Linked DNA regions of Homo sapiens. The protein of the gene in region 1 interacts with the protein of each later gene in a pairwise test. Each region holds a gene or a part of one and is shown in the gene's direction. Other genes may lie near its edges. The genes, in order: PACSIN1, SLFN12, JADE2 and COBL.

Evidence for each region.
Region 2: the proteins of PACSIN1 (region 1) and SLFN12 interact in binary tests that used the Homo sapiens proteins (3 or more experiments, as listed by UniProt).
Region 3: the proteins of PACSIN1 (region 1) and JADE2 interact in a two-hybrid assay, tested with the Homo sapiens proteins (2 studies listed by BioGRID and IntAct).
Region 4: the proteins of PACSIN1 (region 1) and COBL interact in binary tests that used the Homo sapiens proteins (3 or more experiments, as listed by UniProt).

The regions. Positions count from the first base shown.
Region 1 is NC_000006.12:34,461,924-34,469,075, forward strand, and holds the start of PACSIN1 (protein kinase C and casein kinase substrate in neurons protein 1), read left to right. Parts: upstream 1-4,152; 5' UTR 4,153-4,347; intron 4,348-7,152. UniProt on the Homo sapiens protein: Plays a role in the reorganization of the microtubule cytoskeleton via its interaction with MAPT; this decreases microtubule stability and inhibits MAPT-induced microtubule polymerization.
Region 2 is NC_000017.11:35,422,465-35,429,796, reverse strand, and holds part of SLFN12 (ribonuclease SLFN12), read left to right. Parts: intron 1-6,728; 5' UTR 6,729-6,768; coding exon 6,769-7,332. UniProt on the Homo sapiens protein: Ribonuclease which is part of an E2/17beta-estradiol-induced pro-apoptotic signaling pathway.
Region 3 is NC_000005.10:134,563,364-134,570,695, forward strand, and holds part of JADE2 (E3 ubiquitin-protein ligase Jade-2), read left to right. Parts: intron 1-1,130; coding exon 1,131-1,247; intron 1,248-2,752; coding exon 2,753-3,217; intron 3,218-7,332. UniProt on the Homo sapiens protein: Scaffold subunit of some HBO1 complexes, which have a histone H4 acetyltransferase activity. Acts as an E3 ubiquitin-protein ligase mediating the ubiquitination and subsequent proteasomal degradation of target protein histone demethylase KDM1A.
Region 4 is NC_000007.14:51,313,662-51,321,799, reverse strand, and holds the start of COBL (protein cordon-bleu), read left to right. Parts: upstream 1-4,990; 5' UTR 4,991-5,166; coding exon 5,167-5,207; intron 5,208-8,138.

The DNA.
Region 1 (7,152 bases):
GAGACCAGCGTGGCCAACATGGTGAAACCCCATCTCTACTAAAAATACAAAAATTAGCCAAGCGTGGTGGTGCGTGCCTGTAATCCCAGCTACTCCAGAGGCTGAGGCAGGAGAATTGCTTGAACCTGGAAGGCGGAGGCTGCTGTTAGCCGAGATTGTGCCACTGCACTCCAGCCTGGGCAACAGAGCAAGACTTTGTCTCGGAAAAAAGAAAAAAAAAAAAGTGCATTGAGGAGAAAAAAGATGTGAAAAGTGCTTTGAAAAGTGAAAAGTGCTGTGCAAAAGGGAGAAAGTCTTATTCTCTGAGCGGGGCACAAAACAATAAGAGAAAGAGGTGAGAGGAGAGAGAGAGGGAGAGAGAAAGTTTATCTTTGATGAACGTTAAGTTTTACCGACAGAAAATCTAGAAGAAAGCTAGTTTAATTTTAGGAAGCATGGAAGTTGTGTCAATTCCTAAAATAACAGTTTATTTTAGATTACACAGGACAGGGGTGTGTGTGTGTGTGTGTGTGTGTGTGTGTGTGTGTGTGTGTGTGTTCCACTCTCATTTTTTCGGGGCTTGAAGCTGCTAAGGTCTGAATTCAGCTTTAGGGAAGCCTCAACTCCTAAAGGAGTAAGCCCAGCTCAGTCTTCTCCCTCACCCCTCTCCCCACCCACCTCCTCCCTCTCCCTACCTCTGCCCAATCAGGTCTGACCAGCCATTGCCCTTCCACACTGTCCCCAAGTGGCTCCGCCCCTGGGAAGGCAGAGTCCTCCCTGTGCCCTCTGCATTACACCCTGTCCCCTGTGAACGTCCTCTTCCTGCTCTTGCCATCCTCCACCGAATGCCTGCTGCCGAGGAACATCGAGTGTCCTCTCTCAGTCAGTGTCCTGTGCTCTGGACTTCACTGCCTTTTCAAAACCTTCCAGGCCTGGGCTTCATTCCGTCTACATCAAAGCTCCTGATGACACATTGAGCCAGGCTAATGTATTAGTAGGGGAGGGGCCAATTGTTAGTCCATCCATCCTAGATTGTCTTTTAAGAGCCTCTTGGGGAATTAGCTTCTTTACATTAAGAAAGTCCTCGTAGGCCAAGCACGGTGGCTCATGCCTGTAATCCCTGCACTTTGGGAGGCTGAGGTGGGGGGCTCACTTGAGCCCAAGAGTTCGAGACCAGCCTGGGCAACATAGGGAGACCCTGTCTCTACAAATAATTTTTAAAAATTAGCTAGGTGTGGTGGCATGCGCCTGTAGTCCCAGCTATCCGGGAAACTGAGGTGAAAGAGGATTGCTTGAGCCTAGGAAGTCGATGCTGCTGTGAACTGTGATTGCACCACTTTATTCCAGCCTGGTCGAAAGAGCAAGACCCTGTCTGAAAAAAGAAAAAAAAAAAAGGTCTGTCTAAAGAGGGGTGTTTCATACCACTGTGGTAGACCAGAAAGGGAGAAATTTTGGGGTGCATGTAGTTGATGATAATAATAATACCATTATTTTGGCACACCTACTAAGTCCCAGGCACTATACTAGGTGACTTAACATTCTTTGTCTAATTGCAATAACCCTATGAGGCAAGTGTAACCATCATCATCATCATCATCATCATCATCATCAATACAACAAAACTAACTGAGTACGTATGTGCTAAGCAGTTCACCTAATTGTCTTGTGAGGTAGGTGCTGTTGCCATGCCCATTTTCCAAGCCGGGGAACCAAGGAACAGATCAAGTAAGCAACTTGCCACACAGCTATTAAGATGAAAAGGCTGAATCTCAAGGGGTTGAGTTACCTGTCCATGTTCACCCAGCAAGCAAGCAACTGAGTGAAGTCGATGTTCCCCCCACCCACCCACATGCTTGTCACACCTCCTTCTGGGGCTACTGGGAAATTCTAGGTTGAGGTAAGGGCAGCTAGGACCAGGAGCTGCTGGAGTGGGAGTGGGGGGTGGGGCTTCACCAGCCTGAAACAAACAGCATACCCCTTGCACAGAGGGTGTCCAGCAGTGCTCCACGACCCAGTCCTAGCCACTTGCCAAATGTCCCCTGGCATTTTGCTGACCTTTCCCAGCAATCCATCCCTGCCTCCTGCCCTGTCTGGCTCATCAGAATCCCAGTAAACCTTTGGCACCCTGTTGGAATGCTGCCTCCTCCAGGAAGCCTTCCTGGATGGCCTAAACCAGAGCCTTATACTGACCTTCTCCAGAACATTGTCCACTCACTTAGCCGCACTGGTCAGCCTTGACGTACATACTACCATCTGGCCTCCCCAGCTAGGTGTTGAGTTCCCCCAGGCTCCAACACCTAACATGCAGTCAGTGCTCAGAGAATTCTTATTGCACGAATAAATACTGCATTCAGGCATTGCCCTGGGTCACTGGGGCATGAATTTCAGTGCCTCTCGTGAAGTGTGTGGAGAGGGAAGTCAGGAAATATAAACATGTGATTATCCCAGGCTCAAACAATAGGGAGCTCTGTGGCAAACTAGAGTCTGCATGCCTACCTGAGGGGCTCACATTCAAATTCAGCCACCACCCCCACCCCGCAATCCCTACACATGTAAAGGGCAGGGACCCATTCTGGTCCTGAGCAATCTCACTTCTTTTCCCTTCCTCCGGCTTTATTTTTATTTTTATTTATTTATTTTTTTCTTTTCTTTCCTTTTTTTTTTTGAGATGGAGTTTCGCTCTGTCGCCCAGGCTGGAGTGCAGTGGCGCCATCTCGGCTCACTGCAAGCTCCGCCTACCGGGTTCACGCCATTCTCCTGCCTCAGCCTCCAGAGTAGCTGGGACTACAGGGGCCCGCGACCACGCCCGGCTAATTTTTTGTTTTAGTAGAGACCGGGTTCCACCGTTTTAGCCAGGATGGTCTCGATCTCCTGACCTCGTGTTCCGCCCGCCTCGGCCTCCCAAAGTGCTGGGATTACAGGCGTGAGCCACCGCTCTTGGCTCCCGCTTTATTTTTCTACTCTGTGCATACCACTTTAAAATACACTCTTGGCCCGGCGCAGTGGTTCACGCCTGTAATCTCAGCACTTTGGGAGGCCAAGGCGGGCAGATCACCTGAGGGCGGGAGTTCGAGACCAGCCTGACCAACATGGAGAAACCCCATCTCTACTAAAAATACAAAATTAGTTGGGTGTGGTGACTCGCGCCTGTAGTCCCAGCTACTCGGGAGGCTGAGGCAGGAGAATCGCTTGAACCCGGGAGGCGGAGGTTGTGGTGAGCCGAGATCGTGCCATTGCACTCCAGCCTGGGCAACAAGAGCGAAACTCCGTCTCAAAACAAAACAAAACAACAACAACAAAAACCAAACAAAACACTCTTAGCTGCTGATATTGAGTATCTATCTTCCCTCACACATGTGAACTATGAGATGGCAGAGTTTTGGTCTGTTCTGTCCTCTGCTGCAGCCCAGCCCCTCATCAGTGCCTGATACAGAACAGGCCTTCAATAGGTATGTGCCCCGCTCCTCCCTGCAGCGTCCAGGCTCCAGGCAGCATTCAGGGCTCAAGTTCGGAAGAGTGAAGGCCGTTGAGGGTCCCCTATTAGGCCCCAAGCCCCCTAGAGAGCTCCAACGACATGGCCTGGAGTTTGCTTTGGCGACAGCCGGTCCTGCTGGAACTAGGACATGAGGGTTAGCGATCCCGCCCCATGGGGTCACAGGGCAGAAGCTGCGGGCAGGGGTGGGCATCAGTGGGGCGGTGGTGCAGGGGGTGTCGCTCCCAAGTCAGCTCACACGCACGTCTTCAACACACCCACCACACAGGCACCCGCACGCACCAAGGGACGCCGAGGCTCGGGAGAGGAGGAAAGGCCAAGGCGATGGGGAGATGGGGAGAGAGGCAGGGAGCAACATCCCGGGCTCCGAGCGCGCCAGCTGGGAGGGCTGGGGAGGAGGGCGCACCGGAGGGCTCCCGGCACGCGCGGGGCCGCGGGCAGCCCCCAGAAGAGGGAGCCAGGCAAGACTGCTGGGGCAGGGGTCGGCTGAAGCAGCGGGGAGCCGGACCCCACCCGCCACCCGCCACCCGCCACCCCCGGCGCCTGCCAAACTGGTTGCTGCCTCCCCGGCAGCCGCGGCGCGTCCACCTGCGCAGCCACCGCGCCGCCCTGCCCGCGCTACCATTGGCTCGCTAAAAATGCCTCTCTAATCTGCTCTGCTCGGTGCACGCCTCCTCCTCATCCTTCCCCCCTCTCCGCCTCAGCTCTGACCTTCCTCCTTCCCGCAGCCCCGGCGAGATCCCAGAGCGACGCGGTGGCGGCGGCAGCGCCAGCCCCCTCCTCCCCCGGGAAGTCGGCCGGGCTTGAGGCCGGGCCCCAGACGTCCCGCTTCGCCCCGAGTCGCCGCCGATGGTCCCCGGAGCTCCTGCCCCCAGGTAGGAGGTCTGGCCCTTGAATAGAGGGCGGGGGGGTTGTGTGTGCGGGTGTCCAGTTAGGGAGTGCGTGTTGGAAGTGGGCGCCGGGACTGACATCTCCCTGGGCCAGAGCCCGGGCAGGGTTGGGCAGTTGCCTGGAGAGAAGCGGGTGCGCGTTCGGGGATGCCTTCAGGGGACGGAGTTCGCGGGCATCACCCAGGCAGTGCCAGGATGCCACTGCGCTGGGTCCCTTGGGGGAGCGAGCTGGCATCGGAGGCCCTTACCCCAGGAAAAGCGCCGGAAATAGGTTCCTTGGGAAGCTGGGGCCTGGGCCCGGGCGGTCCGGGTCTCTGGACTGCTACCAGAAGGGGTGGGTGGGCTGGTGCCAGCTTGGTGCATAGGCTATTTATGGATCAGAGTGGGCTGGGGAGAAACACAGCAGCTGATGCCTGTCTGGCTTATGGTTAAAGGTATTTCCTTCTGTCCCCTACCCCTTCCCCCACAGCTGGGATGGGAGCGGGGAGGGGGGAGGAGGCAAGAAGGAGGCGATAATGCTAAAAGGCCCCGCAGATACAGAAGCCATGGGCTGCTGGGCACTGCCCTCCCCTGCAAGCCCCAGGCCACTTGCTGCCTGTTGGAGCTGCCTCTGCCCCTTATTTTCACCTTACAAGAGGCTATGAAAAGGTTAAAGGGTCATCAGGGTGTAGGAGACATGGTGGCAAACCCGGGAGCTTGGCCAGACCCAGCTTCAAGCCCCAGCTGCCCCTACCCACAACAGCCCAGGTCTGCACCACATAGGCAGTGACACATATGGCCGCTTATTTCTAGGCACAACCATAAATAACCCACATTGCCCCAGCCCCTGGCACAGCTGGGGTGCAAACAGGACTGTCTGTCAGTGATTTTGCTTCCATCCTCCATCCTGGCCTTTCTATCACAAGTCCAAATCATCACCCTCCAGCAGCTTCCCTGATACCCCAGGTGAGATCCTTGCCCCCTGCCCTATGTTCTTGGACTGCCTTGTGGCTGGGTTATTTGTCTTGTTCATCTCCTTCTAGACCAGAAGTACCTTCAGGCTGGGAATCTGATTCATCTCTGTCATTGCCCCTGCACCAAAGCAGGGTTTGGCACCAAGAAAATATCTTGTGGAATGCATGACTTATTGAATGAGTGAATGTAAACTCTGGGAAATAGCTGGCAACCTGAGGGAGGGGGTCGAGCCCCTTCTTGGGCTTTCTCTCTATTCCCCAGGACCAAAGAGCCACTCCACTCAAACCAGGTGGTTCTCTTTAGTAGGCCCTTCCTTTTTTTTTTTTTTTTTTTTTTGAGAGAGAGTTTCGCTCTTGTTGCCCAGGCTGGAGTGCAATGGCACGATCTCAGCTCACCGCAACCTCTGCCTCCCGGGTTCAAGCGATTCTCCTGCCTCAGCCTCCTGAGTAGCTGGAATTACAGGCATGCACCACCACACCCGGCTAATTTTATATTTTTAGTAGAGACGGGGTTTCTCCATGTTGGTCAGGCTGGTCTCGAACTCCTGACCTCAGGTGATCTGCCCACCTTGGCCTCTCAAAGTGCTAGGATTACAGGCCTGAGCCATCATGCCCGGCTAGGCCCTTCCTAAGCCTGGAGTTGATGGGCAGCTATGCCTTTTGGAGATAGTGTTGCAACCTGCTGGCTCCAGAGGGTCTTATGGGCCCCTGGTTTGAGTGTCCAGGCCTGGTCCTGGCTTGAGGGAAGGCCTGATGTGAAGGTCTGGCTCTCCTCAGGCCGCTGGGTTGGCACTTTCTTCCCGGGGTGCCAACTTTAGACCAGAGTCTCTGCCTCTGTCCCAGCCCTTGGGAAAATCCAGGTCAACATCAGGGAAGCTGGGAAGGCCCAAGCCAGGCCTTCCTCAGCCTCTAAGGTCTTCATAGCAAGCTCTCAGGGGTCTCATGACCCTAGTGTGTGGAGGAGCAAACCCACTTCAGAGGAAGAGGCTGCCAACAAGGGTTCTGGCTTAGCCACAGGCCTGTGTCTATGAAGGACATCAAGATTTCCAGGCTTAGGAGGGGCCTAAAGAGAACTGTCTGGTTTGGGTGGCTCTTTGGTCCTGGGGAATAGAGGGAAAGCCCAAGAAGGGACTCAACCCCCTCCCTCAGGTTGCCAGCTATTTTCCAGAGTTGACATTCAGTCATTCAATCATTCATTCATTCCACAATGGCTCGCATTGCTATTTGACAGCCATGCAGTCTCCCTAACGTGGCTCTGCCACCATTCCCACACCCAGGCTGACTCTCCCTTCTTGCCCTCCCTCTGCCCCCTGGCTGCCCTGAGCTACTTTCAGTTCCTCAAGCAAGTGGGGCTTCTGTCACCTGCAGGCCTTTGCACAGGCTGTTCCTGTCTCCTCCTCTCCCTCTTCCTTCCCACCCAAATCTCTCACCCTCGGGAGTCCACTGAGACTCCTTTTTCCTCCAGAAGCTTCCCCAGCTTGGGCTGGGAACCCCACCCATGATCCCCTCCCCACAGCCTGGCTGCCTCCCCTGGGAACCCTCCCATCATGCAGTGTCCTCTCCCTGCTGGGCTGTGGGGTCTGTGGGGGCAGAGTCTGTGTGCTGTTTCCGGTGGCCCCATGGCCTGGCACAGAGTAGACCCAGCTCTGGCTTGTGGAGTGAGTGACTGTTGGTCCCATCATCTACTTTCTCTCCTCACCAATATCAGGACATATTTTGCATTCGTCTCCCATTAGGAGATGAGGGACCCATTCAGAAGTTTGCACGTATCCCCACAGCAAGAATGAGTTGGTGGTAGAAAGCCTTCCCTGGAGAAGTGAAACTGGCTACAGGTCTG
Region 2 (7,332 bases), on another chromosome or scaffold:
ATTATCTAGAAGGCGGGAAGGATGAGAGCAGTGCTGTCCTGAACTAAATGCAAAGTGACATCCTAGGAGGGCAAAGAGTGTTGCATGATTTTTGTTTCCCAGGAGGTAGCTCTTACAACTTCTGTCCCACCCTGTGGGCAGTTCCTACTAACCTGCTGTTCTGACATAACTCTAAGGAGATCTGAATGCTGTCTCCTTTCCCATTAAAGATAGCCAACAACAAAGCCTAAATAGTGAGTTCAGGTCTGATAGAATTTCCCCTATAGTCAAAAGTATAAAGGATTTCAGTGGAAACATCTAACCTGTAAACCTAGACCCAAGGTTTAAGGGAGGCCAGTAAGTTTTAGGCCCTAGGGATTTGGTAAGCTCAATCCCCAGCTCATTTTTTAAGGGTTTTGTCCCAGATGTATGCTTGAAGGCAGTGATTTTCAACTATGGAAAGTTTTACACAGCTGCAGATGTTGGACTGGGGTGACCGGGATCCCAGGCTAGTTCACAAGCGCTGGGTCCTCTATAAGGTGGCTCAACTGCAGCTCCCATGGGTTCCAAGTTTCTCAGTGGTATGAGCACCCTCCTTAATCAATCTGAGGGTGAGATGTGATTTCTGTCCCCTTCTGTGTATGGTGGGTTAGGCAAAAAAGTTTACACAGAGCCCAGCCTGATGTAGACAGTGCAGAAAGGTGGGCTAAGAGGAAAGGGGACAAGACTCTAGTTAGAGAGGCTGCAAAAAAGAATCGGGGAGCAGAGCAGAGGCTGCTTGGTGAGGCATTACCAGAAAATTGTAGGGCTGGGGCTGTGCGCCTGGGTAGAAGTGGAACTGATTCTCCTGCAGCCTTTGTGGGTAGAGATGGAGAATCTCTTCTGTCTGGTCAACAGGGAAGGTGGACTTGCCTTTGGGGCAGCCTCATGTGCAAGAAATATGAAGAAATTGGGTCTAAAGAACACTAATTGTGCTATAATACTAAGGAGAAAGCTCAGCATGGCAGAGATATACATCTTCCTCTGCTTTCTAGCATAATTATGCCACATTGAGACTACTATTGAGTTTTAAATTTAAACTTCAATGATTGTGCTTACCTGGCTTCACTCTTGTTCAACTACCAGGAGTCAGGTCCTCCCCACTTAGGTTCTCTTTTTTTGGAATCTCCCTGGGTCATATGCAAATGCTTTCTTCTATGGACCCAGGCCCAGGGAGCCTATTTGAATGAATGCTAGGTCCAATATCTCTTAGAAGGCAGCCTCTCTTTGTTCTCTCTGAGTTTTCAGGAAACACTGAGGGAAAGATGCTGCTTTCTAATAGCTTTTAGACCACATCCTCTTACCCCCAAAAATTACAGGGGAAAAGTTCTGTAATCCCCACTAAGATGCTTTCTAACAGCTTTTAGACCACATCCTCTTCCCCGCAAAAGGTACAGGCCAAAGTTCTGTAATCCCCACTAAGATGCTTTCCAGTAGCTTTTATACCATATCCTCTTCCCCCCAAAAGGTTCAAGGCAAAGTGCTGTAATCACCACTAAGATAAATTTGCTAGCGATAATTCTGATACAATTATTTGGGAAAGTATTTGATAATATATATCAAAATCTTTGAAGTTTTTGTCACTTGATACAGTAATTTAACTTTTACAAACTTCTGTCTCTCTCTGTGTGTACATATATACACTCTATATACTTACATAATTTCAGCTTAATTATGTACCTAAGGCACAGGTTCAAATATAACCTTATGTTTCACCATGAACCTTTATTTCCACAGATTCAGACTCTTTCTTCTCTTACATAATTTTTCCCCTTCAAGGTTCCATTTCTTATATCCTGAAATCTGGCTTCTTTTCTGTCTACATGTTCTGGCCTCCCATACTCGATTTAACCATCTTTGTATATATCTGAACCGTATCTGTATATATAATTGAAGTGCTTTGCCAGGGCACTCTTAGACTCAATGAAAATTAGACTGTGTGATTAGCATACCCAAACATTGAAATAACTGAGTCAAGATTCTAGTATAATTATATCGAATGATTGAAAGCAACTTCAATGTTCAGTTGTAAGGTAATAGTTAAATAATGGTACATTAATACCATGTATGAAATTATGCAGTTAATAAGGTTTTTAAAGAATAGCTAATTATTATTTTTGCAAAACTTGTTGTATATACTATATTGATACATGGAAAAGCAAGATTCAAATAGTATATTTTCGTTTTGGGCAGTATGGCCAACCATGACCAACTCTCCCACTGCAAAAAGGTCCTCATGTTGGGTAAAATGTGAAATAATAGAAATACAGCTCACATCCTCAACTCATTTTGTGAAGCTATTGATTGCATTGTCTGTCAACAAGAATAGGAGAAAGGGACATCATGGGTGCAAAATCTTAAAAATATTATCGAATTGCGTTTAATATAAAGAAATGGTGACAGGAATGATGTCAGAAAAATAGTGGATTAGGAAGCTTCAACTCTGTTTCTCCATGGAAACATCAAAAGCAACCCAAAACTGGCTGAACTAACAACAAAGATCTGTTGCAACTAAATGAATGCCCAATCAAGGAAAAGCAGCATTCAAAACTGTAGGAAATTTCATGGTGTTTTTACTCACCCTTGCCCAAGTTTTTGCCCTGCATGGCAAGGTCTTAGTCTTGAGGAGGCAGCATCACTGCTCCTAGTTTCCTCCCTGGAATTGGTGGGGCATAGTAAAACTTATTTTCAATGTTGTAACCTGTCTGGGGACTGCCTGAAGGATTCATTTCTGTATCCCCTAACTCAGATCTCAGGTGAGGAGAAGTGACAGCCACTGCTCAGGAAAGCTGCAAGAAGACTATAGACCCCCAGATGTCTTAGGCAAGAGATTATAGCTAGAGACATAGAATAACCATCTAAGGCTCAGAAGATGAGCTGGGGTGAGATTCTTTGGGAAATTAAGACATTCAAAAGCAGGCATGTATGTAGAGGAATCAAGAAAGCCCCGCTCAATCCAGGCAGGATAAATGCTCAGAAAAGACCTGAGAAGACCTTAAGCTTTTTCCTTGAGCTGATCCCTAAGATCAGAGTATACTTAGCCCATCACTGAAGGTTTGCCTTGCCATAGCATTTGTCTGCAAAGACTGTGAGAGATCGCTGTTTTTTCAAATGTCCAATTTCCAACAAAAATTCATAAAGCATACACACAACAGAAAAATATGACCTATTCAAAAGAAGAAAGTAAATTGGCAGAACACATCTCTGAGGAAGGCCAGACATCAGACATATTAGACAAAGATTTTAAAATAACGTTCTTGATATCCACATGCAGAAAATGAAGTTAGACCCTCATCTCACACCAAATACAAAAATCAACTCAACATGGATTAAAGACTTAGATGTAATAGCTGAAATTATAAAACTACTAGAAGAAAATATATGAAAAAGATCCAAGACATTGGCCTGGGCAGTGATGTTTTGGATGTCATCCCAATGGCGGACAGGCAATGAAAGCAAATGTAGACAAATGGGATTACATCAAACCAAAAAGCTTCTGCACAGTAAAGGAAAAAATCAACAGAGTAAAAGAATAGGCTACAGAATGAAAGAAAACATTTGTAAACCATACATCTGATAAGAGGTTAATATCCAAAATATATAAGAAACCCAAACAACTCAATAGTAAGAAAAAAAAACAGATTAAAAAATGGGCAAAGGATCTGAATAGACATTTCTCAAGAGAAGACATTCTAATGGACAACAGATATATGAAATAATGCTCAACATTACTAATCATCAGGAAAATGCAAATTAAAACCACAATGAGAAATCACCTCACACATGTTAAAATGGCTATTATAAAAAAGACAAGAGATAAAAAGAGATGGTGTAGAGAAAAGAGAACCATTGCACACTATTGGTAGGAATTTAAACTAGCTTAGCCATTATGGAAAATAGTATGGAGGTTTCTGAAAAAAAAAAAAAAAAAAAAAAAAAAGAAAAGAAAAGAAAAGAAAAAGAACCACCATATGATTCAGCAACCTCACTCCTGGATAAATATCCAGAGGGAATGAAATCAGTCTATCAAAGAGATATCTGTACTCTCATGTCTATTGCAGCATTATTCACAATAGGCAAGATATGGAAGCAACCTAAGTGTTCACCAACAGATGAATGGATAAAGAAAAAGTGGTACATATAGATAATAAAATACTAATTAGCCTTAAGAAAAAGAAGGAAATCCTGTCATTTTTGATAACATGGATGAATCTGGAGGACTTTATGTTAAGTGAAATAAGCCAAGTAGAGACAGACAAATACTGCATGATTTCACTTATTTGTAGAATCTATCAAAGTTAAACTCATAGAAGTATAGAGTAGAATAGTGGTTACTGGGGGAAGATGGGGTTTGGGGAAATGTTGGTTAAAGGTTACAAAATGTCAGTTAGATAGGAGGAATAAGTTCAAGAGCTCTATTGTACAATATGATTACTATAGTTAACAATATGTTGTATTCTTTATTATGTATTTATTTATTTGGAGACAGGGTCTTTCTCTGTTGCCCAAGCTAGAGTGCAGTGCCATGATCATCGCTTACTGCAGCCTTGGACTCCTGGATTCAAGTGATCCTCCCACCTCAGCCTTTTAAGTAGCTGAGACCATAGGCACAAACCACTGTGCCAAGCCAATTCTTATTTTATTTTACTTTTCTGTAGAGATGTGGTCTTGTTTTGTTGTCTAGGCTGGTCTTGAACTCTTGGCTTCAAGTGATCCTCCCACTTCAGTCTCCCAAACTGCTTGGATTATAGGCATGAGCCACTGTGCTGGGCCTGTATTCTTGAAAGTTGCTAAAATAGTAGCAATGTTCACCACAAAAAATGATAAGTATGTGAAGTAATGTATATGGTAGTTGGCTCAACATAGCCATTCCACAATATATACAAGTTTCAAAAAAACACATTGTACATGATCAATATATAGGATTTTATTTATAAATTAATAAAATAAAAAACAGGCACTGTCTTAAGTATCTTCAAAGAGCTAAGAGAAAACATGGACAAAGAACTAAAGGATTCAACCCCAACTGTCCAAATGGTTTGGGGCTCTAATGTTAACATTGTTTACATGTGATCAGGAATTTATATGGACACAGGTGGTATCCACAACCTTAGCTGAGTATCTGCATGATATTGGTCCAGCTGTGGACAGGAATATTCTGACCCCCTTTACATTCCTTTTCTAGTATAGCAATTACTACCTATGATGGACTTTATTCTCAATTGTCTCTATGCCACTCGGAAAACCTACACTTCTTAAGTTACACTTATTAACTTAACTTAAAAGTTACACTTAAGTTACACTTAAAAGTTAAACTTAAGTCACACTTCTTAACTTAAAAGTTACACTTAAATTCCACTTTTAAAAAAGTTAAACTTAAGTCATACTTCTTAACTTAAAAGTTACACATAAATTACACTTTTTTTAAAAAGTTAAACTTGTCACACTTCTTAACTTAAAAGTTACACTTAAATTACACTTTAAAAAAAAGTTAAACTTAAGTCACACTTCTTAACTTAAAAGTTACACTTGTTACATTTAAAAATAGTTAAACTTAAGTCACACTTCTTAACTTAAAAAGTTACACTTAAGTTACACTTAAAAAAAAGTTAAACTTAAGTTACACTTCTTAACTTAAAAGTTTCCATTTAGAGCAAAGCAGTGATCCTAATAGATTTTAAGGGAACAGAGCTAATGGATTAGGGATACATAGACTAAAGCACAATGTCTTAGTTTGTTTAGGCCGCCATAACAAAATACCGCAAGCTGGGTGGCTTACAAATAACAGAAATTTATGACTCACAGTTCTGGAGGCTGGGAAGTTTAAGATTAAGGTGCCAGCACTGTTGGATTCTGGTGAGGGCCCTTTTCCTGTCGCAGACTGCCTACTTATTGCTGTGTTCTCACATAGTGGAAGGGATGAGCTAGTGTTCCGGGGTCCCTTTTAGGAGAGTACTAATCTCATTCATGAGGGCTTCACCCTCATAACCTGATCACTTCCCAAAAACCTCATCACCTCAGGAGTTATAATTTCAACATATGAATTTTGGGGGAACACAAACATTCAAACCATAGCACAGGTGTTTTGTATATAAGAATTTTCCTTATTGAAAATATGTGGATATTAGATTTAAAAAGGGCACAATGACTTAGCCCACTTTGCTTAAGATCAATGGCCAAAATTTATAAATCTATTTCATTCTTATAAGAAGGAAAAATAATTAACATGACATGTTGGATGTCATTAGACCTTAACGGGAAATCTTCCAAAAGATTTATACCCATAAATGGAGATAATTAAGGTAAAAGCTGAAATTATTAAAATAAAAAGAAAAGTAGAAATAATATGTATAACTAAAGCCTGGTTCACTGAGAAGATAAAAACATAGACTCACTCCAGGGGTTGTTTAAGAAAAGGAGAGAGAAAACAGGTTGTACAATATTAGGGACTAGAAAGGAGAAAAAAGGCGGATAAAGAGATTACATAATTAGAATACATTATATAGAACTATAGTAACAAATTTGAAAATTCAGTAGGAGTATAAATTATTGCGGTCTTAGCTCAAAATTTGCCAGTCTCTTCATATCCATATACTTACCAGTCTAGTAGAATATATACAGCACAGGATTTTTTTGCATTTGCCTCATAATACAGAATTTGCTATCTTTCTAGTTCAGGTCCTATTCTAATGGCTCTGTCTATTTTACAGAAAAGAATTTCTGCTTGGACACTGCATAGCTGCTGGGAAAATGAACATCAGTGTTGATTTGGAAACGAATTATGCCGAGTTGGTTCTAGATGTGGGAAGAGTCACTCTTGGAGAGAACAGTAGGAAAAAAATGAAGGATTGTAAACTGAGAAAAAAGCAGAATGAAAGTGTCTCACGAGCTATGTGTGCTCTGCTCAATTCTGGAGGGGGAGTGATCAAGGCTGAAATTGAGAATGAAGACTATAGTTATACAAAAGATGGAATAGGACTAGATTTGGAAAATTCTTTTAGTAACATTCTGTTATTTGTTCCTGAGTACTTAGACTTCATGCAGAATGGTAACTACTTTCTGATTTTTGTGAAGTCATGGAGCTTGAACACCTCTGGTCTGCGGATTACCACCTTGAGCTCCAATTTGTACAAAAGAGATATAACATCTGCAAAAGTCATGAATGCCACTGCTGCACTGGAGTTCCTCAAAGACATGAAAAAGACTAGAGGGAGATTGTATTTAAGACCAGAATTGCTGGCAAAGAGGCCCTGTGTTGATATACAAGAAGAAAATAACATGAAGGCCTTGGCCGGGGTTTTTTTTGATAGAACA
Region 3 (7,332 bases), on another chromosome or scaffold:
TAGTGGGCCTGCTGCTATGGCTGCGGCTAGGATGGTGGGGTGGGTGTGTTTCTGAGTCCATGTGGGAGTGCCACGGGCAACAGGCTGGGTCCAGAGTCAGTGAGTTAGCAGAGGTCCTGGGTGCCTGGCAGGCCAGCCATTTTATTTGAAATGTGAAATGTTGAAATGCACCAGAGTTTCAGCCCCAGCCCTGCTGTGTGGACTGACTCAGATTGAGGCCCCACTCCAGTGTTGCCTGTGCCCAGAAGCAAGCCAGGTGGCCCTGTCCATAAGTGGCACTCTCCTTCCTGGGCTCACAGTCTGAAGCCCACAATGCGGGCTTCTGTGATAACAGTTGTTTGTGTCAGCAGTAGGCACTTGCTTGCAGATCAGCATGTTGAAGACTGGGACCACCTCTGAGTGTACCCTGGGCTGGGCATGGCAGAGACAGAACCAACAGGGACTCCATCATGAAGACCCTTTGGCTCAGGACCTTTGGAGAGAATTGCTTTTTCCATCCTCAGGCATTAGCAATGGGGAGACAAATGTGCCCTGCCTCTGGGCTGTGGGGTGGTCTCTGCCCAGTAGACTTGGGCATAGTTGTAGGGCTGTCCCCATAGGAAGGGCTCAGCAAAGGCATATCCCCAGGAGAGCCCTAAAGACCTTCAAGAGGAGATCCCACAATGAGGCTTTTCTTGGTGCCTAGAAAAATAAGTAATACAAATACAAATCGTAACAAGAACTCTGAAGATGTTATTAACAAAGGCCTGAGTGCAGAAAGAAGGAGGATCTTGCATGTACCTATGCGCACACCAAAGCACCTGTCTGTCAAGGCCCACGCAGTCTTAAGCACATACACACAGTCAACTACACACACTGACGGCACACTCACACATTCACAGACAATTTAAGATTAGTCTCAGATGAGCACACACTAACACACTCATCCAGTGGTGAGCTTGGGAGAGTGAGGAGGAATTCCGGCCTTTGAGCCATGCTTGTTTGGTGTCAGGAGGGACTTGGGATTCAGGGGCTCAGCCACTGCCCTGTCTGCCCACCACCTAGTTTCAGCAGACAAACCCCCATTTTGGAGATCCCTGGAGGCAGGCTGGGGATGAGAGGAATGATGCAGCCCCCTGTGTCCTGCCCAGGTCAGCATCGGCTGCCCAGAGAAGATGGAGCCCATCACCAAGATCTCGCATATCCCAGCCAGCCGCTGGGCTCTGTCCTGCAGCCTCTGCAAGGAATGCACAGGCACCTGCATCCAGGTATGTGGCCTACTTCACCTCCTGCTGCCAGGAGCTGGCTGAGAGGCATGCTTGGGGCCTCAGACAGCAGCTGCCACCACCTTCTCCCCTCCATGGGGCTGCAGACTGATGGGCCCCAGAGGGGTGTGGGACTGGGGCCAGAGTCAGAATCGCACCTGTTGGGGAGCATTTCTCCATCCCCTGGTCTTCTAGGGAGTGGGAACAGACCCGGGGAACCAAGGCTCACCACCCCATTGGAGTGCTGAGAACTCTGGCTTTCCCTGAAAGCAAGTGTCTTGGGGCTTGATGAATACATTAGCCTCACTTCTGACATTGAATTTGACGCGTTAGGGGTTAGGAATCAAACTTCTCATCTAGCTAAGCTAATAGACTGTCCTGACACTGGAAGGGCTGTACCAGTCTGTCTTTAGCAAAGCCTATTCCCAAAGTCTAGCATGCGTCAGAATTACCTGGAGGGCTTGGTAAACATAGACTGCTGGGCCTACTCCTGAGAGGCTCTGACTCAGTAGGTCTGGAGTGAAGCTGAGAACTTGCATTTCTAACAAGCTCCCAAGGGATGTTGATGCCTCAGGTCTATAGTTTGGGAGTGCAGGGGGGAGTCATCCTTTGTCCCCCTCATCTTTTAGGAACAGAGTTGTCATTGTAAACGTTAGTTGTGCCTTCACCCATCCACGGACCTTCAAAAGGATTTGTGAGTGCAGCATCAGCAGTCATAATAGTTGGGTGCGTGATTGCTGACACAGTTATCATCATCCAAGGCTAAGAGAGAGGGTCAGGCCTCAAGCTGTCTGGATGAAAGGAGAGGGAAGGGGACTAAGTCCAGCCCCTCTTCCCAGAGGACAAAAAGGGGACCACAGTCCCCATCTTAGATGAGCCAGTGACCCATCATCAGCCTTTCTCTTGATGCTCTGTGATGCCAAAGTCATTTTGCCCACACAAAAATGCAGCTTGAGGCCAGGCACGGTGGCTCACGCCTGTAATCCCAGCACTTTGGGAGGCCGAGGCAGGTGGATCACCTGAGGTCAGGAGTTCGAGACCAGCCTGGCCAACATGGCGAAACCTCATCTCTAAAAATACAAAAACTAGGTGGTGCATGCCTGTAGCCCTAGCTACTTGGGAGGCTGAGGCAGGAGAATCGCTTGAACCTGGGAAGCGGAGGTTGCGGTGAGATGGAACCACTGCACTCCAGCCTAGCAACAGAGTGAGACTCTGTCTCAAAAAAAAAAAAATGCAGCTTGTCCCCAGAGGTGTTTCTCAACCGTCTTCTGATTGACTTCCCCAAAGCATGTGGTGTTGAATGGGTTACCTTTCCAGGCACCCCAGAGCTCCTCCTCCTCCCCTGCCGTAACTCCCATCCTGCACAGGAGGTTGGGAGCCCATGCCATTCTGTTTAGGTTCTCTCCAGCATTGCGCATTCTCAGTAGAGCCCTGGGGGAAGCCCCTCTGTCTTCTCCCCTCCCACCAGGCTCCCTCCATGTCTGATCCTGCCCCTCCTTTCCCCTCAGTGTTCCATGCCTTCCTGCGTCACAGCGTTCCATGTCACATGCGCCTTTGACCACGGCCTGGAAATGCGGACTATATTAGCAGACAACGATGAGGTCAAGTTCAAGTCATTCTGCCAGGAGCACAGTGACGGGGGCCCACGTAATGAGCCCACATCTGAGCCCACGGAACCCAGCCAGGCTGGCGAGGACCTGGAAAAGGTGACCCTGCGCAAGCAGCGGCTGCAGCAGCTAGAGGAGGACTTCTACGAGCTGGTGGAGCCGGCTGAGGTGGCTGAGCGGCTGGACCTGGCTGAGGCACTGGTCGACTTCATCTACCAGTACTGGAAGCTGAAGAGGAAAGCCAATGCCAACCAGCCGCTGCTGACCCCCAAGACCGACGAGGTGGACAACCTGGCCCAGCAGGAGCAGGACGTCCTCTACCGCCGCCTGAAGCTCTTCACCCATCTGCGGCAGGACCTAGAGAGGGTGAGTCCCCATGCCGCCTGCCCACCCCCTGCCTGGTGGGTCCAGGAGTCCTTTCCATGCCACACTCACTGCCCTGGAGCAGCTAGGACTCACCAGGACTCAAACTGTGAGCTCTGGTGGACCGGCCCTGCTGCAGGAGCCTGCCAAGGGGCTGAGGGCTTTCAGGTCCCAAAGAGTATGGGGGTGACTGACACTTTACAGAACAGAGAAGAGTCCAGTTCTTGAGTCTCCGAGTCCCTCTTGTCCTAGCCCTGTCACAGGCCTGGTGAATGGTGGGGGCCCTGCCAAGGTCATGAGGCTGAGAGCACCAGAGCTAGGGCGAGGACCTAGGCTTCTGGCACTTGCTTGCCTCTGTGGGCCCCGCCTGGTCCTAACACATGAGCTTGCATTGAGAATCTGAGGCAGAGGAGGAACTGGAGCTTCCCAAGCTGTCCCCGTAACCCATGCTGAAAGCCAGGGGCATCAAGAGCCAGGAGCAGCCAAACAGGCACGTGCCGGGCCAGGGCAGGGTAGATGGGTAAACGCGGCTCCGTGGGGTGCTGGGCAAACAGAACAGAGGCACGAAGGAGACAGGGTGGACTCAAGGAACGGTGGAGTGGAAGGAAGAGGTGAAAGGGGCTGGTGGATCGCACGAGACTGGGCTGGTGGATCACAGTGTGTCTGGAAGCTGCAGAAGTGCTAAGGAGGGACTGACATACTGTGGCTGGGACTTGCACCCAACACTCCCTGGAGGAGAAGTCCCAGAGTCTGGAATGGGTGGGCTGGCTGAAAACCACCCCCAGCTGTGTGCTGGGAAACAGGTGACGGTGGCTTGGTCCAGGGGGCTGAGTGAAATGAAGCAGGATTTCTGGATCCTTTTCCAGTCCTCTGAACCCCACAGGCTGTTCTGGTCTCTCCTCTCTGGGACATTTCTAGGGTTCCAGAGCATATGGGACCGTGTCACAGTGTCTCCCCTGGGTTCAGACATACATGCTCACCCTCTCCCTGGGTCCTGTCAGGAAATAGCCCTGGGCAGGAGCATGCAGGGAACGTTGTGTGACCCAAGGCGCCTGCTTTTCTTATCTGCATCGCAGTGGGCAAGGCTGTAAAATGGGTAGAACATCTCCAGGGGTGTTGTACTGTCAGGGAAGGGGCACTGGACCCAGCTTCCCCAATCCCCTCCTTCCCACTCATCTGCGCTGCCTGCTCAAGAGGGAAATGACCTATTGCCCCCAGAGAGCCCTCACTGCCTGGCAGCCAGCTTGCCACCAGGCCAGAAGGAAGAGGTGGAGGTGGGAGGAACCAGATGTCCCTGGCTCCAGCCAGGACAGAGGGCAAGGCTACCTACATTGCAGCCACCACCTCCTGGCCAGCCCAGCCTCCTGTCACATGTGGCAGGGGCATCAGGTGTAAGACCTTCTGGGACCGAAGCTGCTTCCAGAGTCTTCTTTAGGCCACCATGTCTCCACCCGCTGGATCTCCAGTGGAAACACCTGCTTTTACTCCTACTGTTTCCCAAACAACCCCTCAGAACTGACCTCTCTGTTCTGTGCTGGTCAGCCCATGTGTCTGTCCCTGGCTGGGTTGTCCAGGGAGGTCAAGGGCTTGACTCACTTATGTAGTCATCATCCTGGAAAAAGAGACTTGAGGAAGATCCTCCCAGCCCTGCTGAGCAGATGAGGAAACTGGGGCTCGGAGAGACGAATAACAGGAAGTCTTAGAGGAACTCCATTCCAAGGGTTTTGAGCTTGAATTTGGACCTCAGTCGGGGGCAGAAAAGGAGTTGTTGGCTTATTCTCTATTCTGTAAATTTCCTGGGCAAAAGCATCCCTTTTTCAGTCCCCTAATCTTCCCACCCCAGTGTTGGCTGGTTCAGGTGGAGCCTGGGGCTGAGGTTGGCGGGCTCTGGGGTTCCGGGGAATGAGAGCTGCTGCAGAGACTCCTGCAGTGGGAGCCAGAACACTCCAGAGTCAGGTGTGAACCGTCCCACTCCTCCTCTGGGAAGAGGAAGCAGGGCCAATTTTGAAGTATGTGCAGCCTCTTACGGCTCAGGGGGCCCTGTCAAATGCTGCTTTCTGAGCAGCCACCAAGCTGGGCTGGCGGGCACCAGCTTCAATGAGGGCAGGGGCATGCACAGCCCTGGCAGGGCCGAGGAGGGACAACCATGAGCCAAGCTGACCCCCATCAGCGGCCCAGCCTCAAGGCCTTTCCAGGTCACACATTTGCAACTTGGGTGAATGAACAGCGACAAGAACCCTGCCACGGGGCAGGCTTTCTGCAAAGGCCCATGGTGGTTGGTGGCCTGGCCAGCGGGCCCAGTCTCGGACCGTGGCCCAGTGCCAGCAGCCGGGAGTATCCAGCCTGTAACTGGGCACTAAGCCAGCCTGGGCAGGAATCATCGGAAGATGGGGCAGGGCTTGAGGTCGAGGCCTTGGTAGCCTGACTTTGCATCCAGTTCCTGCACTCCCAGCTCTATACCTTCTTTGTTTCAGTTTCTACTTCTCTGAGTTTCAGTTTCTTTGTCTGTAAAATGGGAATAAGGATCAGACTGACCTTGGGGTCACAGTGCATGTGGGGGACAAAGCTTAGCACAGTGCCCTCCATTGTTGGCCGTGATTGTTGTTACTGTCCTGGCCCCTCAGCATTTGGCTCTTAGAAGAAGGGAGGCCAGCCCGTGCGCTCTGAGGGTGGGCTCCACAGAGGACCAAAAGGGCAGGCCCAGTGCTAGGGCCTGGGAACCCAGCATCCTCCCAGATTGATTCGTTCCTCCTCAGCCAGGCAGGGGTTTTGCTGAGAGAAACAGGAGCCGGGGCTGCTGCCGGCATGAAATCCCATTTTATGGTCAACCAGATGTGCTTTCCTAAAATTTCAGCCTTGGGCCTCGGCCCCAGCGGACGCTCGGAAGGCATGGCCACTGCAGCCTCCCAGAGTTATTTACGGCTGACAAAAATCGCAGCACTGTTGATCAGCCCGACAAGTGCCGGCTGGTGTCCCCTAGCAACCGTGCTGACAAGCAGGCTGTGCAGGGACTTGCTGCTTGTGGCTCTGGCTCTGGTCACCAGGAGTTTATTTGGGAGCCTGACCTGGCCTGAGGAGGAGGCCAAGAGGGTGGAGGCGGCTCTGAGACACACACCTGCCCAGAGGATGATATGGGACAACTTCCCAAGGAGGGAAAGGCTCAGAAGGAAGTGGGTCCTGGCCTCAGTGCCTGGATGGTGGTCCCTTTGGCCTCCCACCAAAGCCAACCTTGTCCTGGGCAGCTCCAGCCTGCAGACCTCTGGCTCTTCTGCCCCTGTGCCTTCCATCTCTAGGGCTCCCCCAACCCATTAGTGCCCTTGCCTCACCCAAGCCCAGTCACCACCTCCAGCTGCTCCCAGGTCAGTAGCCCAGAAATTGCCACATCCTGCTCCGTGCCTGCAGTCTACTGCTCTCCCTGCTCACTTGTCTCCCAGGCCCTCCACCCTTCTTTGTCCTGCTTTCTTCACTCACTCCCTGTATGGCACTGGCCTGCTATGCCCCAGCCCTTGTCCCTCACTGAGGCCAGAACCCTGGCAGAGCCTCACCCAGTAAGAGCCACTCCCTCCACCAGGAGAAATCCCATAGCGCTGAGCAGGGCAGTCCCTGCCGCACACCCCACCTCATACCTGCTGCCCACATGCTGAGCCCTGCCTCCCTCAGGACAGCGTCCCCTCTGTCCTCATACCAGGGCCTCTAACTTCTGCCAGCCGAGCCTCTCGGTCCATTCTCTTCCCTTCCCTCCTGTCTTCCTTCCCCCACAGGGGCTCTTTTCCAGCCCACACCTGCAGCTGACGAGTCTGTCTTTTCTTCATCCCCTCTGCGGGTCCTTTTCCACCAATATTTGAATCTGTTCAACCCTCTCTCATCTTCAAAAGCGAATCCTCCCTCCCTATTTCCCTCTAGTCGTGGGTTCCTCCGCTCCCACCCCCATCTCTCCTTTCCTGTCATCCCTCATGGTATTTGCATCCTTGCTGCCCACTCTGGCCGGGTTTCCGCCACATCCCAGAGCCTGCCACCTGGGCTGCCTGCAGCCTCCCTGCCCACCTCTCCATCCCCCGATCCTCTCAGCAGCGGCTGCCACAATCAGACCTGCCCTTAGTCTTGGAGTCCTTTTTCTG
Region 4 (8,138 bases), on another chromosome or scaffold:
GAGGCTGAGACAGGAGAATTGTTTGAACCTGGTGGGTGGAGGTTGCAGTGAGCCGAGATCATGCCACTTCACTCCAGCCTGGGCGAAAGAGTGAGACACCATCTCAAAAACAAAACAAAACAAAACAAAAAAAAGTTGCATCCATAATGGTTTAGTTTCTAAATCTGTGTTAGACTGCATGGGCTGCCATAACAAAATATCACAGACTGCGCGGCTTAAACAACAAAAATTCATTTTCTCACAGTTCTAGAGGCTGGAAGTCCATGATCAAGGTGCCACTGCGGTTGGTGAAGAAAGAGAGAGAGCTCTGTTGTCTTTTCCTCTCCCAATAAAGACACCAGCCCTATAGGATCAGGGCCCCCCCACCCTTATGACCTCACTTAAACTTACTCACTTTTCTAAGTTTCTATCTGTAATTACCCTTACACTGGTTACAGTGACAGTTTCTACTCTAATTACAGTTATATTCAACTTATGAATTTTGAGGGGAAACAATTCGGTCCATAACACATTCAAAATAAAGATCCTTTTGGTATCTAAATTTGCATTAATCATATGGTATGCTTTATTTATTTAAAAGGTCCTTACAATTTTGTAAGATTCAGGCCCTTTGAAATCTGGATCCACCCCTGAATATTCTCATTTTAGAGAGGAGGACACTAAAGCCTAGAGAGAAGTAATTTGCTCTCGGCAATACCACCAGTGAGTGGAAGATCAGGCCCGAAGATGCTCACTGTGTTTGACCCTAAACCCTCGCTACTCAAAGCGTGCTCCCTGGGCCAGCAGTCTCCACTTCCCTGGGAGCTTGTTAGAAACATAGACTCTCAGGTCCCAGCCAGACTCACTGCATCACGAACTAAATCTTAATAACATCCCAAGAAGTATCCACGTTTACGAAGCCCTGCTTTAAACTGGACTGCTTCCATCTGTGTCTTTGATGTGCTTTCTTCCTTTCATTTTCCCTCCAGAAAGAGCAGCTGGTGTGACTGCAGGCACCCACCTCGAGTCATGGAGAGCTGAGTGTACGCCGATGGGGGCTGTTGAGACCCCAGGTGTGCCTGGGAGGAGAGTTAGGAGCAAAGAAGGGGGATGGGGTTAGACCAAGGAGAGAATGTCCTTCAAGTAGCCTTACACCCTGGTCTCAGGGTAGCTCCTACTGCTTGGGGCAAGAGCTGATGCCACTGTAGTCCAGAGCTATAGCCAAGGGCACCCATTACAGCCCATATCAGGACACAAGCATGGTGTCCTGGGACAAAGAGCAGCACTCAGCCATGCTCTGTGGATGAAGGGGCAAAGGTTCTGCTTTCACGCATGTGGGAAGGCAAATCATGGAGAGTTGCGGTCTTGCTGCATCTTCTGTAACTCCCTGTTCAGTGACTTTACAACACCCTAGCTTGAAATCTGCCAAGGTGCGTTTACACTACAAAAACTGGCAAATGCTACAAATAGGGGCTCTTTTTAAAAAAATTTAAAAATATCATTTGTAAGCATTTATCAGCACATCCCTGGATGTTTGCCACACTATAAAATATAGATGATTTAGTGATGGTCGACATCTGAAAAAGTGGCTGAGTGTGGTTGCTCATGCCTGTAATCTCAGCACTTTGGGAGGCTGAGGTGGGCAGATCACTTGAGGTCAGGAGTTTGAGATCAGCCTGGCCAACAGGGTGAAACCCCATCTCTAATAAAAATACAAAAAATTAGCCGGGCGTGGTGGCAGGCGCCTGTAATCCTGGCTACTTGAGAGGCTGAGGCAGGAGAATCGCTAGAACATGAGAGGTGGAGGTTGCAGTGAGCCGAGATTGCGCCATCGCACTCCAGCCTGGGCAACAGAACGACTCCCTCTCAAAAAAAAAAAAAAAAAAGTGACAGTTTTAATAAGGACATTTAAAAGCATGTGCAGGAAAGAGTCCATAAAGAACACCTTTCCCTTTGAGTTTCCCTAGCGTGTGATTGTGCCATTTGCTCTGCTGAAGTCAGTAAGCACAGGAAGGAGTGCGTTCTGCTCAGTGACAAGTGGTAGGCTGATCTTGGTGACATCCTCTACAAGGCCCCACTCAGCCCTTTGCTTTCAGCCCATCACCTATTCCTCTTTCTCACTGTCTGTCTGGAAGAGCTCAGCCCTGTCTGTTACTGATTTCCTTGCCTAGCCCTCCCTATGAGGTGGCCACATCCACACCGCAGACAAAGGCTGGCATACAGTAGATGCTCAGAAATATCTGTTGAACTATACAATTTTGGAAAACAACTCCCCACAGTTGCATCTCTTGGGGCCCTTATCAGTCAGGGAAGTGTGGGTGGCAATATGCACAGAATCTGATCAGGTCCTAGGCCCCGCCTGCCCCCCCAGGCTCTGTGCCCCTCCCCACAGTTGACACAAGTGATCGGCAGTCCTGGCCCATTTAGATTGCAGGCCCTGGGTCACAGCGTGAAGCTCCTCCCTCTGGCAGAAGTCTGACCTTTACTCTGTGTCTCATCCTGACAGCTCTAACCAGGCTTAACCCTCCACTTCATTTCTGGAAACTGGTCCCTGTTGGGTTTCTGAGTAGATGTCTGGGGGCCTTCCAAGGATCTGAGGTTGTCCAGGCCTAGGGTCACCTGGGCCTTTTTCCTAGAACAGCAAGTTGCATCTTGGCCTGGAGGTGGCACGTCACCTCCTTCTCATTGTTTTTCTGGATGTTGAGGAGCTCTCTTACTCTTCACCATCCACCTGCTTCGGGCTTCCTGTTGCCATCTGTGCTCAGCATCTGAGACACTGGGTCACTCCGGGCTTCTTTTGCTCCATGTCCCCACCATACTTCCTCTTGCTGCCTCTGCCAGGTGCTTGGAGTATGTGTCACCTGTGAGGTGGACTTCTCCTTAGGGATTTCAATGGGGTCTGGCTCACAGTGCCTAGTCTAGTTTTCAGCTCTGGCCCCTCCTGGGCAGCCCTTCCCATGGTGGTGTCCAGAGCAAGGAGGGGCTCCCCAGATTTTGGGAGAGACTCTCTAATACCCACACCCAAGGTGCAAGAAGAGATTCATTCATTCAGTGCACCCTTTGTTTACTGAGCACTGACTCCACCCTGCTAGGCACTGCCCTAGATGCTGGGGGTGATAAATCAGACAAAGGCCCAGCGCTTGCTAAGATCACATGCTAGGGAGGAGACCAATGGCAAACACATGAGCAAAATATATGCGGAATAGGATATGTTATTTATGTTTTTTATTCCATTTATATATAATGTATATACATATTTATAAGTTTACATAAATACAAATTTTATGCATTCATATAAACATGTCTATAAATATAACACATTACATGTAAACATTTCTTTATAAACTTACATTTAAATATAAACACACACATATATACACACATACACATATACACACACACATATATATATACACATACACACATACACACACACATACAGTGACAAATGCTCAGAAGAAAATTAGGACAAGGCAGCAGTCAGGAGCTTGAGTGAGAGCTGCTTTTATTTTGTGTTTTAAGACAGGATCTCACTCCATTGTCCAGCCTGCTCCCCACTCGCCGCCCCGCCCCGTAGCTGGGATTACAGGTGTGTGCCACCATGCTCCGCTAATTTTTTTATTTTGTAGAAAGTTCTCCCAGGTTGCACAGGCTGGTCTCCGACTCCTGAGCTCAACTGCTCCTCCGGCCTTGGCTTCCCTGAGTGCTGAGGTTACAGGTGTAAGCCACTGTGCTCCGCAGGGTGCTTTTAGACAGAGAGGCCAGGAAAGGCTCCTTGGGGAGACCACGGGATGAAAAGGAGGAGGAAGAGCACTGTGGAGCAGCATCCCAGCCAGAGGCCCTGAGCCGGGAAAGCGCTCCACTCATGGGAGGCTGGGCTGCAGGGAAGTGAGCCCCAGGGCCACCTGGGGACTTAGGAAACCTTCTAGGTGGGAGCAGGGAGCACCCAAGATCTGCCAGCCACGAGTAAGGACTCACATTTTGCATATAGACTGGTCTGCCCCCCCTTCAGTTAATGAGAAAGCAGGGGATCAGAGGGAGGAAGGCTGCGCAGGCCTCTGGATACCTCATCCAATGACAAGATCGCAAGGGGAGCGTCACCCCCAACGCTATCAGGCTCGCCCGATCTGGCCTCTTGTTGGTCTTTTATTCGAGTCATTGAAACCATATGAAACTGCCACTTTTATAGGTCAGCCCATCATACCAACCAAGATCTTAGAGAGTGGAGGTGAAGTTGGGCAGATAAGGGACCTCTGGCTGACTTGCTCTGGGCCCCGGCGTGGCCGGCAGGACCTGCATATCTGCCCGCCAGCCCGCACTGGAGTGGCAGGGTTGTGCCACAGTAGCGCCCAGTGAATCAGGTTGGCAAACTTAAGCGAGCATTCACCTAGAGCGAGTGAGTTGTTAGCAAAGCGAGGCCGCGCTCCAGCCCGCACTGTTTCTGATTCCGTGGGACCTGGTGGGCCCCAGAAATCTGCATTTCTAACAAGTTCCCAGGTGTTCCTGACGCTCCCGGTCGGGACTCCCACTTTGCGACCCTACGCACTAGACATTTGCTGCACGGATAAAGGTCAGAGAGCGGTGCCGGACACTCACTTCTCACCCTCCAACGTCAGTCCTCCCGGGCTGGTCCGCCCACCTCGCCCTCGCACGGCCTCCAGGCTCCAGGTGGTTCCCCTCCCCCAACTCCGCCAGGAGGCGCCGGCCCCGGGATCCCCCACTCCGCCCAGAGAGGGTCGCGCTCCCCCCAGGGGTGGAGGAGCACGGGGAGAAGCCCTCTGCCGCACCCGCGGGTGTCGGTGCAGGGCCCAGGTGCCGGAGGATTCCTTCCCCGGACGCTCGCCGCGGGCCGGGTCGGGACTCTGAGCAGGCGGGGCGGGGCGGGGCGGGGGCGGCGCTCCGGTGGGCGCGGCAGAGCAGCCGGGGCGGGGGCGCGGCGCACCTTGCTCCCGGCGCCCCCGCCCCGCGCCGCCGCCAGCCCCTCCCTGCGCTCCCGGCGCCCCCGCCCGCTAGAGACGATTCCAGCCCCTTCCGTCCGCCGCGCTCCGCCGCTGTCCTCCGCCGGCCCGCGTGGGAGGACGATGGGTCAGCGCGGAAAAAGTGAATGAGGGCGGCAGCGGTGGCGGCGGTAGCCAGCGCCTGACTCGGCGGGCCCGGAGCACCGCCCGCGTCCCGGCCCCCGGCACCATGGACGCGCCGCGCGCCTCGGCGGCCAAGCCCCCGACCGGGTAAGCGGCCCCGCGGTCGGGCGGGGTGGAGAGGGGGCTTCCCTGGGCTCGGACGCCCGCGTCCGCACCGCGCGCTCCCGGGCAGGGCGCCCTCTCTGCCGCCCCAGCGGGTGCTGGTGGTAGTGGTGGAGCAGGTGGTGCGGTGCTGGTGTTGGGTGCTGGTGTTGGGTGGTGGTGCGTGCTGTGTACTTTGGGCACCCGGGTCGTTGCCCAGGTAACCGTGTCGGGCCGGGGCCGGAGCGCACTTTTCGCGCGGGGTGGTTTGTATGCAGGCGTCCTTATGGGGGTCCCCGCCAGCACAGCCCCCACTCAGCTCCGAGCTTTCCTCAGGCCCCCCAAGTGTTTGCCGTAGGGGTGGAGCGGGGAGCGAGGGGACGCCCGGCCTTTGACTCCGGCCTCTTCCCTGCGGGCTTGCCCCTGGCCGGTTCCCATCAAGTCTTCCCTCTCCCGGCCTCGGCGGCAGCCCCAGGATCGGCTCTCCCGGCAGCGTGGAGGGGAGGGCTCCCCGGCTTCGCAGCCGCCCGGGCCCCGCGTTCTCGGAAGGTGTTCGGATTGCCCGGAGGGTTTCATGGCAGCAGCTCTCCCTCCCTGCCTTTATTCCAGGGTCTCCCCTGGCAGTGGAAGGGGCGTCCTAGTGGGGCCAGGCCTGAGGCGCAGACATCCGTAGCGGACCCGCGAGTCTGGCGGCCCATCCCTGTCTTCGCGATTCCGCTTTTGCCCAAACCTCTCCCGGTTTCTGTTTGCTATCCCCACACCTTGCGTGCAGGGATTACACGTCACATTCAGGATTTGACTCTCAGAAAGAGTAATTTCCCTCAAACAGGACGAGCAGCCCTGCTCATTATTCAGACCCCGAGCCAGGTGCGCCGTGCTCATCCCGGCCAGCGGTGCAGGCTGGGCCGCGGGGTAGCGCGCAGTCCCGGTGGACTTTGTAGTTTTCAGCGCGGCGCGCCGGGGACCTTCGAACTCGCTCGCTCGCCTGGAGCAAATGTGTATGAGTCTTGCAAATGGAATGAGGGTTGGGGTGAGCCCTGCACCTGCTTACTGAATGGGCCCACTTTCTGCTATGGCAACTGGACTTGAAGGAGGCAGCTTTGGGGACAACAAATCTTTTTTTCTGTTACAGTTGTGTCCCACTGACTCACCCTGCCCATGTGCCCATAGGCGGGCGTGTTGCCCAAGTGTGTAAAAGACTTTCAGTCGGGCTCTTTTTAAAATTTTAAAGTTTTCCTTTAATGCCAGGAAAAGGTGAGCCAGGTTAGCAAATCAAATAATCCTGAAGCTGAGGAATGTTAAAAAGAAGTTTTCTTTCTCTCTCTCTTTTTTTTTTTTTGCAGTGCACTTACTGGTGGTTATATAATTCTCTTTGAACAAACAAATTCCCCAGAAAGAAAGTAAATGTGGGAAATCCTTTTTCATGGTAATAGGCATCCCAAAATAACAGGGAAATGTGAAACAGAGGTATCTTTAAATCTGTGGCTTTCATAGCCTATTAAATGAGCCTATTTAAGGACACTGAATTATTTTGTCACTATCACCTTATAAATAAATATGAAGACAGAGAGAACATTTAAAAGGCCGGCAAAACTGTATCCAAAGAGTATCTGTAAGATCCTTGAAGGGAGTCTAATGATAGAAGTGAAAGGACTTACCCTAAGAGCGTGGCACTCTTTTCAGCCTGGTACTGTGTGGCAAGAGGTAGTCGAGGGCTGGCCTTCTCAGGGCTTCCCAGAGCTCTGATTGGCTTTCATATTTGAATTGCAAAGTAAAACTAAGGATTTTTGCTATGGAAAACATGAAATTATTCCTGATGCATTCAGTTCTTTCCCTCACTCATATCCAGTGTCTAATTTACTTGTCCGAACATCTTTGTCCAAGAAATGTAGACATATTATTTTTAACTTCTATTGTTCTCACTTTGTCATTTGTTAATACTTTCAGTGAAGAAGCATCAAGAAAATGTTAATATCCTTATATTTTTTCAGACAAGAATTACGTGTTTAATAAGCAATTTTGTGTTCAAATCTGAGGAGATAAATGGTGTTAGGTCTTCGAATATTTTATATAATTTAGGTGTATGCTTGCTAATTATAAAGGTTAGATATTGCTGTGAAATTTGTGGCTTTAGTACATTATTGGTGGCAGGCAGATTCTGTTGGCTCTTCACTGAGATTACTCCTCTGTTCCCTGAGATTAAGGCAGTGTTTGCAGTGTGCTTGAGGGAAATTTGTTTTCCATCTGATTCTGCAACCGTTTATTATAAAATCAAACTTTCAGTAAGCCTCTGTCTTCCCACATGATAACAAACTGATGTGGTGAAGCTGTTGCTGTTGCTGAAACTACCACTCCTCCTTGTGTTGTATAGAAACAAGCTAGACTGGGTGCAGTGAATTAACGAGATTTCACCCTGTGGCCTACAAACGCTCTTCTAGAAGATTACTGAAGGGAGATAGGTTGGTGAATGTAAACTCACTGACTCTGTGTCTGGCTAAATTATTAACAGGTAGTTATTAGTTATCTTTGTGAAAAACACAAATATACGTTTTTACTTGGATTGAAATTGTATGTTTTTTACTAGGAATTTCATTAAAACAGTGATGTATGACTTCCTTGACTCCTGGGGAAAGTGTTCTTTTAGGAAAGAGGCTGTGTGCAAAAACTAACAAGTCAGACTTGATGTGACTTTTAGGGAGTTTTAGAGCTCAGTTGAAGTATAAGAATTGACAGAATACTCAGAACACAAGTAAAGGCAAATTGCCTTTTGGTGAGGTTTTGAAGTATATTTAACTCTCTACTTTATCTGTTTACTTTGCGTTTGTCTGAATATTTATAGGAGCCATCCCAGTAGTCGGCTGTTACAGAACACAGGGCTAAATTTCCCATTGGACCCTCTGTTAATAAAGGACAGAAGAAGGCTTGCTGTTTGGCAGG